Linked DNA regions of Homo sapiens: region 2 is linked to region 1. Evidence: fine-mapped expression QTL. Tissue or cell type: transverse colon. Region 1 holds a variant in brackets; the other region holds the start of a gene. All regions are shown on one strand. Distances are from middle to middle.

The links. PIP is the estimated chance that this variant, and not a neighbour inherited with it, causes the effect.
Region 2: it holds the start of CYP4V2, and the variant in region 1 is fine-mapped to the expression of CYP4V2 in transverse colon (CEDAR, PIP 0.95). The same link has a PIP of 0.9 or more in pancreatic islets.

Annotation. Positions count from the first base shown.
Region 1 is chr4:186,212,391-186,220,576 of GRCh38, forward strand. It overlaps CYP4V2 (cytochrome P450 family 4 subfamily V member 2), which reads left to right. Exons shown (of 11, transcript NM_207352.4): 11 at 1-1,073. It also overlaps a transcript of KLKB1 not described here. Among named protein-coding and RNA genes, the nearest start is that of KLKB1, 11 kb to the right of the region's middle. The variant A/G (reference allele first, on the strand shown) is at 4,548.
Region 2 is chr4:186,187,580-186,195,765 of GRCh38, forward strand. CYP4V2 (cytochrome P450 family 4 subfamily V member 2) reads left to right here and starts at 3,988. Exons shown (of 11, transcript NM_207352.4): 1 at 3,988-4,458; 2 at 6,921-7,033. The coding sequence starts at 4,245. FLJ38576 (a long non-coding RNA gene) reads right to left here and starts at 3,911. Exons shown (of 1, transcript NR_046264.1): 1 at 1,453-3,911. RefSeq lists a silencer at 3,785-4,314.

The DNA.
Region 1 (8,186 bases):
TACTTATGAAGGTGATAACTGACACGTGTTCACTGAATTTTAATTTGATAGGCAATACATCTACCCACTCCATTATTTTTTAAAACTTCATTTAATAGTTTAAACAAGATTGGTTTTGTTTTCAATTTTTATTCACTCTTCATAGAATCACAATTACCTTTATATATCATATGTTATTGGAAGAGATTCCTCAGTAATCTCCAATCTCTCATAGTGCCTCACAGGGTTGGTCAATGGCTTTTGGAACTGGAAGGACCTTAGAACTTATCTGTTATGCTCCTGATAGCCAATAGCAGATAGAAGCTTGCAATCAAGAGGGTAGGACATGTGTTCTTCAATGGATATCAAAGGAAGAGGTTGCAAACCAAAGCCATTTGGCAAGCCCTGTAGCCTGGGCCATTTAAGACAGGGGCGGTCTCAGCCAAATTGCACCCATTTAACTATCCCAAAGAGCCACAGTGCCTACAACCCAGGCCCTAAGTTGATGAAGAAAAAGTCAAGGAAGGAGGTGATACAATTGGAAATATTCCCATCAAATGGTTAATCTTATTTAGAAAATGGGCATATTAGAAAAAGTCCTTCCAAGATGATTTTGGATAATAAAAGTTGTATTTGTGGAAATTGGTATTATCTCTGTTTTATGCACTTACATTTATCCCTTACATTTTGTTTTTAGTGACCCTACATGACATTAAATTTAAAGTAAAACATTGTTTAATGTTACCTTTTGGCTTGAGAATGTCTTTCAGCTCCAGAATTATTGTTACTCATATTTTAATCAGTAAGTCATTTAAGCTATGACAGAGTAGGAATTGAGAAATTATTTCATATGCTACAGTATTGAAATGTGGATGCTGCCTTGTTTTATAAGAAGATGATCAAGGTTTGTGTGCCCATTACCTTTCCTCTGCCTGAAAGACGTGTCTCAAGAAAAATAAATTCTATTTTAGATGCAGGTACTGCATTTTATTCTAAGAATTGATATCAATTCAAAACATAGAAAACTGTAAAAGATAAATCAGGAGATGGCTGATTCATAATGGGTAATAAAATAAATAGCACTTTCGAGCTGATGTCGTCAGTGACTCTTGGATTTTCTAACAAAAGGTTCCTTTACTGTTGTCATAGAGAGATTGTGAATTTCTCTGACTCTGAAGAATCAACTAGAAGAAGTAGAATCACCAGAACATTTTGCTCAGCTGAAAGCACAAAGTAAACTCAGTTACTGGGAATCAGCAAAAACCACAGGCATCACTGGTCCCAGGGATTTAGAGTCCAGAAACCTCTCCAGGTGATGGACTGTTGATTTGGGGCTCTATGCATTGTCACAGACAGCTGGGGATATCAGTTTCTGGACCAAATGACCCAATAAGAGATGCTGGTCGTAAAAATCCATTTTTATCTGGAATGTTTCTAGAAGATCAAAACCTTTTTCCTTCCAGCATCTAATGCCTGAGTGATACATTTAAAAATTTTTAGTCTGCGTGGGCACCCTCTTTTTCTAGGAGCAGCACTTTTTATTTTTGAAATTATCCTACAATGAATTACCGGCTTTTCTTCTGTTCTCATCTTTTTCCTTCCCCAGCATACACACACTGTAAATATGTGCCATATTCTTAGGCAATCCCACTTTCTCAACCTTTGTTGAGTGACCCAAGCAAGGTTAAATTCGAGTTCTCCCCAACGAGTTTTCCCAGCTGCAATTGAAGAAGAGATACAGTCCATCTCTGTGGTGGAAACTCCAGGTTGTGAAACTCAAGATCAATCAGCAATAGAACCTCTGGAGCAGCTGCTGGGTGATGAGAAGAAGCAGGCAGAAGAAATGGACAGAATCCTGGAGGAACCTGAGTCCCACATGGCAGGTGATGCTGAGGCTCACTGCATGTCTGCCCTGCTCACTCTTCAGTGGGTCCACCCTACTTGGGAACCCAAGAGCCAGTATATTGCCGTTTGCTTAAAAGGACTGTCTTTCATTTATGACCAAAAGCGAGTTAGTGTGTGTCAGGTCAGCCGAAGGATGAAGGAAGGGCCCCCATTCTCTGGATATGATCTTAGGTCTTCACCCTATTTTCTTTGTGCTGTTCAATAATTCTCTGTATTGGATCATCAGCATATATGCCCACCAGTCCTTTAAATGCAATACCATTTAAGAAAATGCAGAGTTTTCTCTTTTCTAGATAGTAGGAAAGTTAAAGTTACACTGCATTGTTTTAGAAGACAGCTAGGCTTAACCTAACACATCAGTCTAGTTTTTTGGTTCTGCCATGATGACTTTCTGGACTAATTAGTCATTTTTCTCCTCTAATTAAACCAGGTTCATTTTCCTGCTGGCTAGCTGTATGCCACATTTCAGGGATAAATCTCTCATCTCTAATTACTAAAATGGACTCGTTGCATCCTTGCCTCAGTTTCTTGTCCAGAAGTTCACCAAATGGTTATTTCCTTGGGCTGAATTCAGTTTTGGAATTAACTCCAGCATTTAGCTGTTGATCTTGTTCTCTTTATCCTAGTAGATAAGTTTTTGGCACGTTCTTTCTCCTTCCCATCATTATCTCTCCTCTTTACCCGTCACTTTCTTTCTGTTGTGGTTTGCATTTATTGATCTCTGCCTTTCCTGATACTACTCAATTTATGTTTCACAGAAATAACGGCTGTACTTAAATGAAACTCAGATTCCTATATAAAAATGTTGGGATAACTTTGTTCCTTCAGTAAGGGTCATACAGACATTATAGATCTTATCGGGAAGAAAAATTATCACAATATTTAGACATGACTGTCTTATTTTAAAAATGTTTTCAGTTTACTTTCAGATTCCATATATAGTTTTAAAATACATGTTTTAGCTGAATAGTAAAAAAAAAAAAAAATATGTAGGCACAGGAGTATCTATTGGGCACTCCTGGGAAGGAGAGTAGCCTTTCTTTCTCTTTCTTTCTCTTTCTTTCTCTTTCTTTCCTTCTTTCTTTCCTTCCTTCCTTCCTTCCTTCTTTCCTTGCTTTCTTCTTTCTTTCCTTGCTTTCTCTCTTGCTTTCTCTCTCTCTCTCCTTGCTTGCTTGCTTTCCTTTTTTTTTTTCTATATTCTACCTCTAGGCTTTGCGTCCTTGCTTGCGCAAGTCAAGCCCAAGTTTTAAGTTTTATGCTTATGGAAATACAGTAAATTAAGACATTTATTTATTTATTTATTTATTTATCTATCTATCTATTTTTTGAGACAGGGTCACCTAGGCCGGAGTGCAGTGGCGCAATTGTGGCTCACTGCAACCTTCACCTACTGCGCTCAAGGGATCATCCCACCTCAGTCTGCTGAGTAGCTAGGACTACAGGTGCATGCCACCGTGCCTGGCTAATTTTTGTAATTTTTCTTGTACAGTTGGGGTTTGGCCATGTTTCCCAGGCTAAATTAAGACATTTAAATCACTCAGGCACAACTAATTTTTTCATATTGCCACATCTTCCTAGGAGTGGGATTGTGCTTCAGTTTTTTCAGCTGTCTATGCCTTAATTTTGACTCCCATCAATAATGCTTGATGTTGTAGCCAGTGTTGGTTTATTATTACCAAAAGCAATGCTGTTCTGGAAAGGCAAGGACTGCAGTGTCTCATATGATGCAATTGGACGGAACCTCAAGACGACATTTGCTCCCAGCAAAGGGCATTCAGCAGAACAAGGACCAATCAGAATTCATCCAACAATCATTTTCAGTGTCATCTAAGACTGGCAGGTAATAGCTTACATGTGCGATTGTGACTTTCATGTGAGGATGAGATGGTCCACAACTGCGGGGAAAGCAACCTTCCTGTCCTCAATCTCTTGTTTTTAAAAGATATTTCATTCCTTATTCATGTGCTTATTTATTTATCGTTTTACTCTTTCATTCATAAAAGTCTGCCAAGTTCTATTGAGGGAGCTGGGGAAAGACAGCAAGCAAGCCCCAGTCCTACCAGCAAGGTGTTACAGACAGTGGGCGTCTGAAAAACAACAGAGAAATGGACAAGGAGGTAACAGAATGGCAGGGAGTGAGAAGCGTTACGCAGAAAGACAAAGAATGGTGAAGAGACAGGAGGTGGAAGAGATGGAAGGTGCCTTTTCAGATGAGATGCTTGCTGGAGGATGGTATCCTGAGGAGATGATGTTTGAGCAGTGGTCTGATTGAAGTGAGTCACGTGGGGATCTGGGACAAGGGGAGGTGGAGAGGGCTCCATCCTGGCACGTGTCTAAGGGGAGGTTCTGGAGAAAAATCCTCTTTCAAGCACGTGCAGTTTGTTGGAATATTCAGTGCTTTGGGATGGTAGGGGTGAAATCCCCATGTTCTTTTTGGCTCTTGTCCAGAGATGACTCTCAGGTCCTTCCCCGTGACCCATCTCAAAGCCAGCGCTGGAGCACTTCCCTGCTGTCAATCCCTCTTAACGCTCTGAATCTCTCTGACATCTCCTTATGCTGACCGCAGAGGAAAACTCTGCTTTTAATGGGCTCATGTAATAAGATTTGGCCCACTCTGATTGACTCCATTTTGATTGGCACAAAGCCAAGTGTTTAGTAATCTT[A/G]ACCCCATCTGCAGAATTGCTTTTCTCATGTAACATAATCATGGGCAGATGTGATATCTCGTTTTATTCACTGTCCCCAGGATTTGAGTGGGAGATTTGGGAGAATGTTTTAGAATTCTACTTACCACGCCTCTTTTCAATTTAGTTCTGATTTGGTTCACCTGAATCTACAGAGGTTTTTTTAGTTTTATTGTGCTACTAGAATGTAACATGTTTCACTGTAAGAAAACTCCAACTAAACCTAGAAGCATATTTAAATAGGTTAAAAGTCTGTAATCTCACCTTTTAGAAAAACAAACCCTGAGGGTTTCTGCTGTGATGTGAAGGCAGGGTGCTTTTGTCCCAGTTGTTTTGTTGTTGTTGTTGTTGTTCTTGTTTTCTGCTGAGCCTGGTAGCTGATGAAATCTAAAATATAAACTCTTTTCTACTGCACAAAGTGGAGAGATTTGTTGACTACTGCTGCACCACTTGATATCCTAAAAGACAGCACAACATGCATATTTAAAATATGCTACTTCCTTCTCACCAGAAAATATTTTATTGGCAACATTATCCTACATTTCTAATAAATGTAGTTCTGCATTCCAGTAATATACATAAAATATTTATTTAAGAATCGACTCCAAAAACTCTAATGTACTAATCAAGATGATATACTGTAATTTCAAAGAATAGAAAACAAAGGAGATTTAGTGGGCAGGTCATTGTGGTCTTTAAATATTTTAAAAGCAGAAAAAGGAGAATCAGTTGTTTTGTGTGGGTCTAGTACGTAAATCTAGGACTGAAGGATAGAAGTTTGCAAGGAGGTGTATTTCAGTATACAGGAAGTTTTTTTCTTTTCTTAAAAATAAAATTAAAATAGAGCTCCCTGAGCTCTGAAATAAAATAAAATTAAAATAGAGCTCCCTGAGTTGGAGCAGGCTGCTTAGGAAACCAGTTTCTCCTCAGTCGAAGTATTTTGACAGGAAGGTCTAAAGTCTATGTCAGAAGTGTTATCCAGCAGATTTCAGCCAACCTTATCTGTAGAGTCAGATAGTAAATCTTCTTGGCTTTTGAGGCCATGCTGCCTCTGTAGCAACTTCTTAACTCTGCCATTGTAAGGTGAAAGCAGGCATAGACAGCAAGTGAATGAATGGCCATGGCTGTGTTTCAATAAAACTTTATTTACAAAAACAGGTGCAAAGCCAAATGTGGTCTGTGAACTGTGGTTTGTCAAGCCTGATATATTGCATTTCCTGAATTGGGTGGGAATAGGACCTAAACATCAAGCCAGTCCCTTCCAAATCTAAGATTTCAGTGTTATATGATTCTTTGGTAGGGTGTAGGAAGGCATAGATATCATTTGCTAAAATATCCCTCTAGGAGGAGCTATCCATACCCATCCATTATTCACTGTGCCTGCAAGCAACTCTAATAAAAAAAAGTTCTGTTAGATGAGGTTTCAACTACATGCCACTAAATACTGGGAATGTTATAAGCATTTTTTAAAATGGAAACCTGTGCATAAACTGTGTGACCCTAAAATGAAATTAGGGTCCTTTTGAGTGCAGCATTTTTCTACCTTTTTTTATGTATCATTTACAAATAAAAATTATATATATCTACTGTGTACAAGATAGTGTTTTGATATACATGTACATTGTGAAATGATTACCATAGTCAAGCTAATTAACATGTCCATTATTTTACATAGTGTGTGTGTGTGTGTGTGTGTGCGCATGTGTGTGTGCTGAGAACCCATCAGATCTATTCTCTAGTGAAGTTCATGTATACGATACAGTATTATGAACTATAGTCACCATGTTTGCATTAGTCAGGGTTCTCTAGAAGGACAGAACTAATAGGATAGATGTACATATAAAGGGGAGTTTATTAAAGAGTATTGACTCACACGATCACAAGGTGAAGTCCCACAATAGTCTGCCTGCAGGCTGAGGAGCAAGGAAGCCAGTCTAAGTCCCAAAACCTCAAAAGCAAGAAAGTCAACAGTGCAGCCTTCAGTCTGTGGTCAAAGGTCCAAGAGCCCTTGGCAAACCACTGGTGTAACTCCAAGAGTCCAAAAGCTGAAGAACTTGGAGTACAATGTTCAAGGGCAGGAAACATCCAGCACAGGAGAAAGATGAGGGCCAGAAGACTTAGCCAGTCTAGTCCTTCCACGTTCCTCTGCCTGCTTTTATCCTAGCCCGGCTGGCAGCTGAGATGGTGCCCACCCAGATTGAGGGTGGGTCTGCCTCTCCCAGTCAACTGACTCAAATATTAATCTCCTTTGGCAACACCCTCACAGACACATCCAGGAACAATACTTGGCATCCTTCAATCCAGTCAAGCCGACACTCAATATTAACCATCACAAGTCCACCCCTTGTCTACTTGAACCCATACGCATCTCCTGAAATCATATATAATCTTCAAATAAAGATAATAATAAGGTCATAATTATGTTAGGTAATACATAATACAGCTATCCTTCGTACAACCAGAAGTGTACCAATCCCCAACCCAAATGCTGTTACATAAAGTTAACAACATTTAAATGCTGATTTGAAGTAAATAAATCTTATGTCACATGATAAAGGAAAAAGAAAGGAAATAAAATGAAGATATTTTCTTAGTACAAGTGTATACATACACAAACATGTTCCTAACAAAATAAGGAGGAAATATGACAATTACAGTCCTCATTTCTGCAGCTGGTCACGTGGGCATAGCCGGTATTGATGACTACCTTCTTCTACTACCCATTCTGTATTCCTTTTGCCTTCAGCAAGCATCTCAGCAGGTTGTGGTTTTTTACCTGGTGGAGTGACCCAAACATTCATTCCTAAGGGGTCTGGGCCTTATGTAGCACTGCCTGGATTGGGCTGTTGTAGTTTCCCATTGACCTTAATCACAGGGCATGGTAATACTAAGAGTTGCCTGAAGGGATCTCCTGTATTCCTTGCATACTCTTCCTTACCTCCACTGTGGAGTAATAGACTAACTTCATCTTGATAGTCCAGGTCAATCACCACAGCCAACACTGCAACTCCCTTCTGAGCCTGTTGACTTAGAGGTAAAAGGATCTCAAAGTGTCCAGGTGGCAAGCTTAACTTCCAGTTTAATGGAATCCTTGTTGTGTCTTCTGGTGGCAGCATTTTTCCCTCTGAAACTAACACAACTAAGCAAGCAGAAGGTAATGTATTGGGAACAGGAAGCAAAAATTTTGCTAGTGGATAGCTAGGGGTGATGGTGAGTGGTGCCACTTCCACTTCTGCCCCTTGATTCCTAGACCTGTGAATCCTGGCTATGGGAGAAACGGTGCCATATATTGGATGTTGATTCAGAGCATACATAGCCTTCTGGAGAATTTTGCCCCAGCCCTGCAAAGTATTGTCCCCTAGTTGGCATTGTAATTGTGACTTCAAAAGGCCATTCCACCGTTCTATCAATACAGCTGCTTCAGGATGACGGGAAACAATGTTGTACATTAGATCCTCCAACTTATTCACACTGCATAATTGGAACTTTGGACCTTTTGACCAAAACCACCCCATAGCTGGCACTCCCCATACTCTGGCTACCACCATTCTACTCTCTGTTAGCATGACTTTGACTTTTTTAGATTCTGCATGTAGTTGTAAGTGCCTCTCTTCAGATGAT
Region 2 (8,186 bases), 25 kb before region 1:
GCCCTCACAAATGGATTAATGCTACTATTGTGGGAGTGGGTTCCTAATTAAAGGATGAATTCAGCCCCCTTCTTCTTGCTGTCTCTCGTTTACTCTTGTGCCTTTCACCTTCTGCCATGGGATGATGCAGCAGAAGGCCCTCATCAAATGTGACTCCTCTTTCTCGGACTTCCCAGCCTCCAGAACCGTACCAGTCTGTGATATTTGGTTATAGGAGCACAAAGTGAACTATGACAACATCATTAAGAGGGTGATAAGGCAAACTACAGAGAGGAAGAAACTTGGCAATACATAGCTGGCAAAGGATTTGTATTCATATATAATTTATTATGTAATAATTGCTCATTAATTATTTATAATTCCTACAAATCACTAAAAATCCAGACAACTACAACGTTCAACACGGAAAATGATTTAATAGGTGCTCTCTGAAATAGCCAACAATCTTCTGAAATGATGCTGACTATCCTAGGTCACTAGGAAAATTCATACTAAACTTTCAACGCTCAGCCTAGGCAACATGGCGAAACCCTGTCTCTACTAAAAATACAAAAATTAGCCTGGTGTGGTGGCATGCCCCCGTAGTCCCAGCTACTCAGACGGCTGAAGCGGGAGGATTGCTTGAGCCTGGGAAGTTGAGGCTGCAGTGAGCTGAGATCATGCCACTGCACTACAGTCTGGGTGAGAGAGTGAGATCCTGTCTCACATAATAAATAAATAAATAAATAAATAAATAAATAAATACTCAATGCAGTTTTAGTACAAGACCCAACTGAATGGCTTTGCAAAAAAAAAAAAAAAAAAAAGACAATACCAAACATTGGCAAGTATATGGAGCCACTGGAACTATCAGAGATTGCTCATGAGTGTGTAAATTGGTACAAATGTGGAAAACTGGCAAGAAGTACTAAGTCTAAATGTATGCATGCCTTATGACCTAGCAATTCCATTCCTGGGCATATTTACAGGAAGGAGAAATATGTACATATGTGTATCAAAAGACATCTACAACAATGATCATACAAAATTCTTCACAACATAGGAAAACTGGAAACAACTGAAACATCCATTGGCAGTAAAATGAATAATAAATTATAATATATTCCAACAATGGAATAATAAACAGCTGTGAAAAATAAGGGAAAATATTACACATGGCAATATAGTCAATATAGATTGTCATAAATCAGGTGATTGTACACATACATATGATCTGTTTTATTGCTGTTTTCCATTTGTGTGCCAATTACATGATTTTAATTAATAATGTTATAAGTCTTGATATTTCTTGGTATAAGTTATCTAACTTGTTTTTCAAATTCATCTAAACTCAGGGTTGAGTTTAGGAAGCCAGATACGAAAAAGTGCATGCTGTATGATTTCACGTTGTATCGCATGATCTGGGTTGTGGTTACATGGAAGTGATGGTTTGTTCATGAAACTGGACGTTTGAGTGTTGTATACTTTATTTGATCCTTGTACTTGTGATTCAAAATTTCATAACAACTTCCTGCTACCCTTTATGATTTGATGTGTGTAAGTAGAGTTTGCAGATAATGTAGTTCTATACTGAGCTATGAATTTATTTTTATAATGTACATTGTTTTGTATTAAGAATCATTCCAAGTGACAGAAAATTTGCGAAATCAAAGTATTAACATTTATAAAACCCTTCTGTTGTTTATACTATTCTGGCCATGACTTTCAAAAGCACTGATTTTTAGGGGGACAGAGTATCAAAGAAAGACCTTGGCTAAAGAAAGCTCTTTCAAGTGGGAAGGGCATCATAGAGAATGGATCTTGAGGAGTGAAAGTCAGGAGATGCCTTCCTACTCAGCTGCATAGCTCATGAAGCTGACAACCCGCAGAGTTATAAATGTTGTGGGTAGATTGCCTTCACACTGGCCTTGCAATCATCTGCTACACTGAGCACCATTACATTTCATGGTGGACATTCTAAGGTGTGACACTGTGTACTCTGCTGTCAGGAGGCTTTCCGGGGAGAAGGGTCTTGCCAAGGATTTCTTGCACTCCCAGCCACCTGACTGGTTTAGTCTGAAATTTCAGTATTCCAGGGTAGTATGAGAAAGGCCCTATCTGGTAACAAAGAAAGCATAAGAAAGATGGCTAAGGGAACAAAGGGACAAGGCTTTTATTTTGTTCTTTACCCACAGATTGCCTTCAAAATAAAGATAAAGCGTCTAAGCCTGGCAGTGCAGGTCTCTTTAAGCTGGCTCCATACCCACCCACCTCATCCTGCACCTGTCACTGCGTGGGACCCTGTGCTCCAGGCAGGGGCACCTCACTGCCCCCTGAGCTCATTTTACCCCTCCTGGCTCTGCAGCATTTCTGACCATTTCTGCCCAGGCCGAGACTCACTGCTGCCCAGAGCAATCTCCCTTCTCTCCTTCTGGAGGGGAGGGGTTGTATGTTACCCGCCTGGTTTTATCCACAGAGGTTAGCAGAGACTGATACAGACAAACCCTTTTTCTTTCTAATTTTAGATTCAAGAGCACATGTGCAGGTTTGTTAAATTTGCCTGACGCTGAGGTTTGAGTTTCTATTGATCCCCTCACCTGAATAGGGAACACAGTACCCAATACACAGTTTTTCAACCATTACTCCCCTTCCTTCCTCCCCCTATTTTAGAATCCCCAGTATGTAGACAAATTGTTTACTTTTATAGCTGTAATTAACCTTATTATAGCTCAGCCTCAACCCTTTAGAGAGGAGGAAACTAAAGCCCATGAGACTTGCTTAAAGATACTAAGTGAACATATTTATTTTTTAAAGTGTTAAAGTGATTAAACAATGTAGACGTGAATGAAATAAAAAGCGTAAGTTCCCCATCTTCATTCCCACTCCATAGAGCTGATCAGTATTTTTACTTGCAGACATTAGTGGAGCCGTAGAGAAAGAAACCTTTTCTCCAAAAGAAGGCATTACTTTACACACTCCGTTCTGCAACTTGTTTTGTTCACTTGCTATTTCACGTCAGCCCATGCAGATGACTTAAAACAAATTCAAATGGAGAAAAGCCTTAGGCATGTTTTTCTCTGCACTAAAGAGGCCCTGCAGGTGGCTGTGGCCAACTTATGCAGTGGCTTCGAGTGAACGAACGTAATTAGTAATTAAGCAAAGCGGGCATCCAGGACATTCAGTTTCATCTTCCTGGCACTTTAGTGTTTAGGAAGGGCCTGGCCTCTCGGGGAGCGACACTCCTCGCCCGGCCACTTTGTAAGAAGCATCGAGCGTGGAAAAGGGGCTGGGGTCAGCACTGGGGCCCTCTGCCGGGAAGAGAGACTGGCGGCCAGCACACGCGTCTCCCCAGGCTGAAATGGGGCACCCTCTCGCGGCCCTTCCCTCCCTTCCCGGGCTGGGTGGCAGGTCTTGGCTCTTCTGCGAGTACCCCGCGGCTGCGGTCTCCCGGCACCCGCTGAGCAGCCTCGCCCGCCTTCCTCTCCCACCCGCCCCTGCGTGCTCTCCGGGGCTCCGGCTTCCTCGGTCTGGTGCCTGGTGCGTATTTTGGAAAATACCTGGCTCATAACCACCTCATTGAGCTCCCAGTGTCCCAGTGGGCCAGCGGACACACACGGGTAGCTGACTTCCCTAACGTGTCCCCAAAGCCTCCCTGGATTACAGCGCCCGCTGCTCCATGTGACCCCGCGGGAGCCAGGACGCGCCCCGCCTCCCGGGGCTGCAAGTTGCGCAGGGAGCGAGCGATGCGCAGCAGAGCTGGGCTCCGAGCCGGATGCGCCTTCCTTTCCTCTCCAGAGCAGGCTGCCCGCCCGCGGAATCCCGCACGTAGAGCAACCTCGCAGCACCCTCAGAACAGCCCCGCTGGGGCGCGCCGGGCTGCCGCGGTGACCTTTCCGACGCCCCTGACCCCGCATCCGGAGGCGGCCGGAAGTGTCGCCGGCCTCCTCCCGGCGCAGCCTCCGGGCCTCCAGTGCAATCACTACGCCCTGGGGCCCGGAAACCGTTTTCCGGTCTTTCGCTTTCGGCTGGGGCGTGGAGGCCGCGGTGCTGCGTAGGCCGGGCCGGGCGCAGGAACAGCCCCGTGGCGCCCTCTCTGGCCGCCGCCCGGGCGGGAAACGTCGTTCCGGGGACCGGGCGACCCCGCAGCGGGGAGCGCGCCAGGTCCGCGCGGGGAAGTGGGCGGTGTGCGGCCGGCACCGCCTCGCACCACGCCCCCGCGGGCCCGCACTTTCCCGGAGTGCACCCCGCGGCCGCCAGCCGGGGCGATGGCGGGGCTCTGGCTGGGGCTCGTGTGGCAGAAGCTGCTGCTGTGGGGCGCGGCGAGTGCCCTTTCCCTGGCCGGCGCCAGTCTGGTCCTGAGCCTGCTGCAGAGGGTGGCGAGCTACGCGCGGAAATGGCAGCAGATGCGGCCCATCCCCACGGTGGCCCGCGCCTACCCACTGGTGGGCCACGCGCTGCTGATGAAGCCGGACGGGCGAGGTAAGGGCCGGCGCTCCTCCTGGAGCGCAACGGGGTCCGCAGCCCCGTTCCCACCCTCCGATCAGCCAGGAACCCGCTGCTTGTGGCGCTGGCCGCAGGAGAGAGGAGCCTGTCACCCTGTGGAGAATGCACTCCCAGTTCTAGTCGTTGCCCCTTGGCACCCGCCGACACTGCTAGTGCCCCATCCCAAAGTGAGCATTTTCTTTGTGTGTAGCACAGGATGCGGTATTTCCAAACCCCTGCCCTCGGTCTTTTCCCACCTCACCGCTGCTCAGCTCTCAAAGCCCTGCCGTTTCCTCCTGCCTTGGCTTGGGAAGCCTTAGGAACAGAAGCTCCCTGGGAGCACAGAGCGGTTTTAAACTGGCCAACACCTTAACGCCCAGAGCCGCCCTCCTCTCGCTGCCACTTTGGAAAATAAGAGACTAGAGATTCACTGGACGCTTCCTCCCGGCATCACAAGACTTGACTGCTGCTTCAGTTCCCGCTTGACCTTCATACTTTAGCCCTTTAAAGGATGTTACATAATAACAATTAAGAGACGGCAGGGCCTTCAGGCAGACTTCTTTGGAGGGTGTCAAACGCCTTGTTTATTAAAGAGTGAATTTTTTAATTAAAATCATGTTTTAAAACAGAGATGGACATTTTATTGATGGAAAAAAATCACGTTAAGTTAGAAAGCTCTCAAAAGTACCTGGTATTTACAACTCCCTGTCAGGGAGGGCGAACTCGATCTCAGAGTTTTATTTTCATCAGGGATTACGTTGAGGTACCCAGAAATGAGAAGATTTGCCCAAAATGGCATATTTTAAAATTGGCCCAGACCAGAACCCAGTTTCCTCTGGGATTATTTGTTAGTAATCGTTTTACAGGCTGAGCATTAACTAACTCCAAAGCTTGAAGGACTTTTTCTCATTTTCACTTGTTTTCTCTAATAAAAATAATGCTGTAATTTCAACTTCACAAGATGAGGCCTCATGGAAGAGTGTTTACCAAAATATTAAAAATACTTTGACAGAAAAAAATCAAGCGAACTCTTTGCCAACCAAATATCATCATGACTGATGTAACAAGTAATCCAACACAGATATGAAAATCACACTGGTAAAAATCATCTCAGTTAATTCTAAAAGCAGAGCTAACCACCCCTTTTGTCCTAAGGCTTTATGGTATTAAAAAATAAACTGTACAAAAATATAGATTTTCCCCTATCCCCTACCCCTGGAAAGTAATATACTGAAGTCTCATCATACTGTTTTGGGGATTCCAGTAATTAAAATCTCTAGTGAATAAAGACCTGTTTCAAAACAACCTGTGAGCTGACTGGACTATTTAAAGTAATTCTCCTTGTAGTCACTTTCAGAGTGAAGACAATGACGAATACTGTCTTTTACAAAGGGACTTTTTATTCCACCAACAAATTCTGGATTTTGGCATCAGGAAAACCACTGTTCAATTTCCAACACTATATCCAAGTTGTTTGAGAAATTATTTAAAACTCTTTAACTTAGAGGGTTTTCTTTCTCCTTTACTTGTTAAAGTGACTATATTACAGAGTCACTTTAAGGATTAAATTTATTGCATGCAAAGTTTCTAGATCACTGTCTAGAAGTCAGTTAGAGTAAGTTCTTTAGTTGTCAATCAAGCATTTAGTAAGGCCCTGCTTTGTGCCCAGTGTTGACCTCAACAAAGTTGGGGATATCAGAATATTCTAAGATACAGTCGTTGTTCCCAAGAATCTTGTCTTTCACATACAAGAGGTGTTGCGTTTCATTTTGCGGCTAATGTCCAAACGCTGGCCTCAGCCATTTCACCTTGAAGATTGCAGTTGGCTTCCAACTGGCCTCTAAACTCTAATCTAGCATTTTCCAGTCCATTGTGACAAAGTCTGCCTTCCCCAGCTACTCCCAGCTGTTGGACCTGCTGCCTTAGAACCACAGATTGAGACCTCCCTGTCCCCTCTGTCAGACCAGACCAGGGCAGGCAGTATATTTGCATGACGCAGGATGATTGACACTGGTGATTTCACCCAGCTCCCTTCATAGCAATTTTGACAACTGCTTCATCTGAGAGACATTTGGAAGCAGCATAGTTTATGGTGAAGTTCTGGAGTCTCGCTCGGTACAAGCCAGTTTCCACCATTTACTAGCTCTGTGATACTGGGCAGTCGTTAGAAAGAATGCCCGTTCTGGGACATCAAAACCTAATAATTATTATTCTCTAATAGCTAACATGCATTATGTGTGTTTATTTGCTGTGGCAAATACTATGTTGAAAAAAACTTTAGACTTACAGAAAAGTTGCAGTATTACAGGCAGTTCACACATGCTCTCTACCTGGCTTCCTCTAACAGTAACATATTACAGAATTAGTATATTCATCAAAATGAGAAAACAAACCTTTGTCCAATACTGGTCACAACTTTCTCATCTTGATTGAATTTCAAATTTGATGTTTTTCCCCAGAATTTTTTCAGCAGATCATTGAGTACACAGAGGAATACCGCCACATGCCGCTGCTGAAGCTCTGGGTCGGGCCAGTGCCCATGGTGGCCCTTTATAATGCAGAAAATGTGGAGGTGGGTACATGTGAATATGATCAGTATTGTACTGTGTATCTGACAGTGTGAGAATCTCACCAGAATCAATATAACGTGTCCTTATATTTCAGCCATTTCAGCACAAAAAACATTCCACTAAGTATTTTAGACTATATAGGTGCAATTTAATGCTTTCCAGGTATAGCCCGAATCCTGGGAGATTAACATTCTCCAGATATAAGTGCACAACTGCTATCAGGTCCCTTTATATTTATTCTTTTTTTGAAAGGATATCGTTTTTTAGAAACACAAATAAATTATTCCGCAAGGCAAGCACTTGTTATCCACCAGACGCTATTTTAAGACTTCAAAAATATATGACTAATAAAATATGTTTCCCTCAAGTTGCTCAGGGTCTCATATCAATGATAAACTTAGTCCAAATTTAAAAGACAATGCAAATTTGATATTTATGGGATAAATATTACAAACCCATGCTGTTGAAATTAGTCCTCCAAAAAGCTGTAGTCTTTTTACTTGTTGAAAGGTCTGGGGAAATCATCTTGTAGTATGGTGAGAAAAGGATTTGGGTCAGGAAACAAAGATGGGGTAAACAGAGCTTCTCTTCATCGACCAAAATTAAAGACTGAATTTCCTAGGAAGTAGTGCCAGGACATGTCTTTCTAATTATGGTGAAAATGTTGGAGTTTCTCTTGCTTCTCCAGAATCCTGGCTCAGAGAAGAGAGCAAGAAGGGCAGACAGGATTTCTGCCGCTGTTGGCCTAGTGTTAATAGAAGTTGGTGTGGTGGATGCAGATGGAGATCTGTCCAGAGTAGGGGACTTGAGCAAGAAGCCTGGTGGGCACCCTGTGCTCAGCCCTAGACCCCATCCCTCCTCCCACTTCACGTGGACTCTGGGTGATCCGATCACGTTCATGGCTTCCATTGCTGCCTCTATGCTGGGGACACTCCGAACAGGCATCTCCAGCTCAGGCCTTATCTTGGCTGTCTCACTTGCTTTCAGACCACAGCAACCTGAAGGCCTCAAAGTTACCATCACCTGAAAATACACCTATGATTTCCATCTCCCCACATGTGCCCACCCTCCAGATTCGCCTCCTCCCACCTCACTGTCCCCCTCCCCACATTAAATAACTCCACTTGGTTCCTGGTTTATGGCGGGAACCAGAGA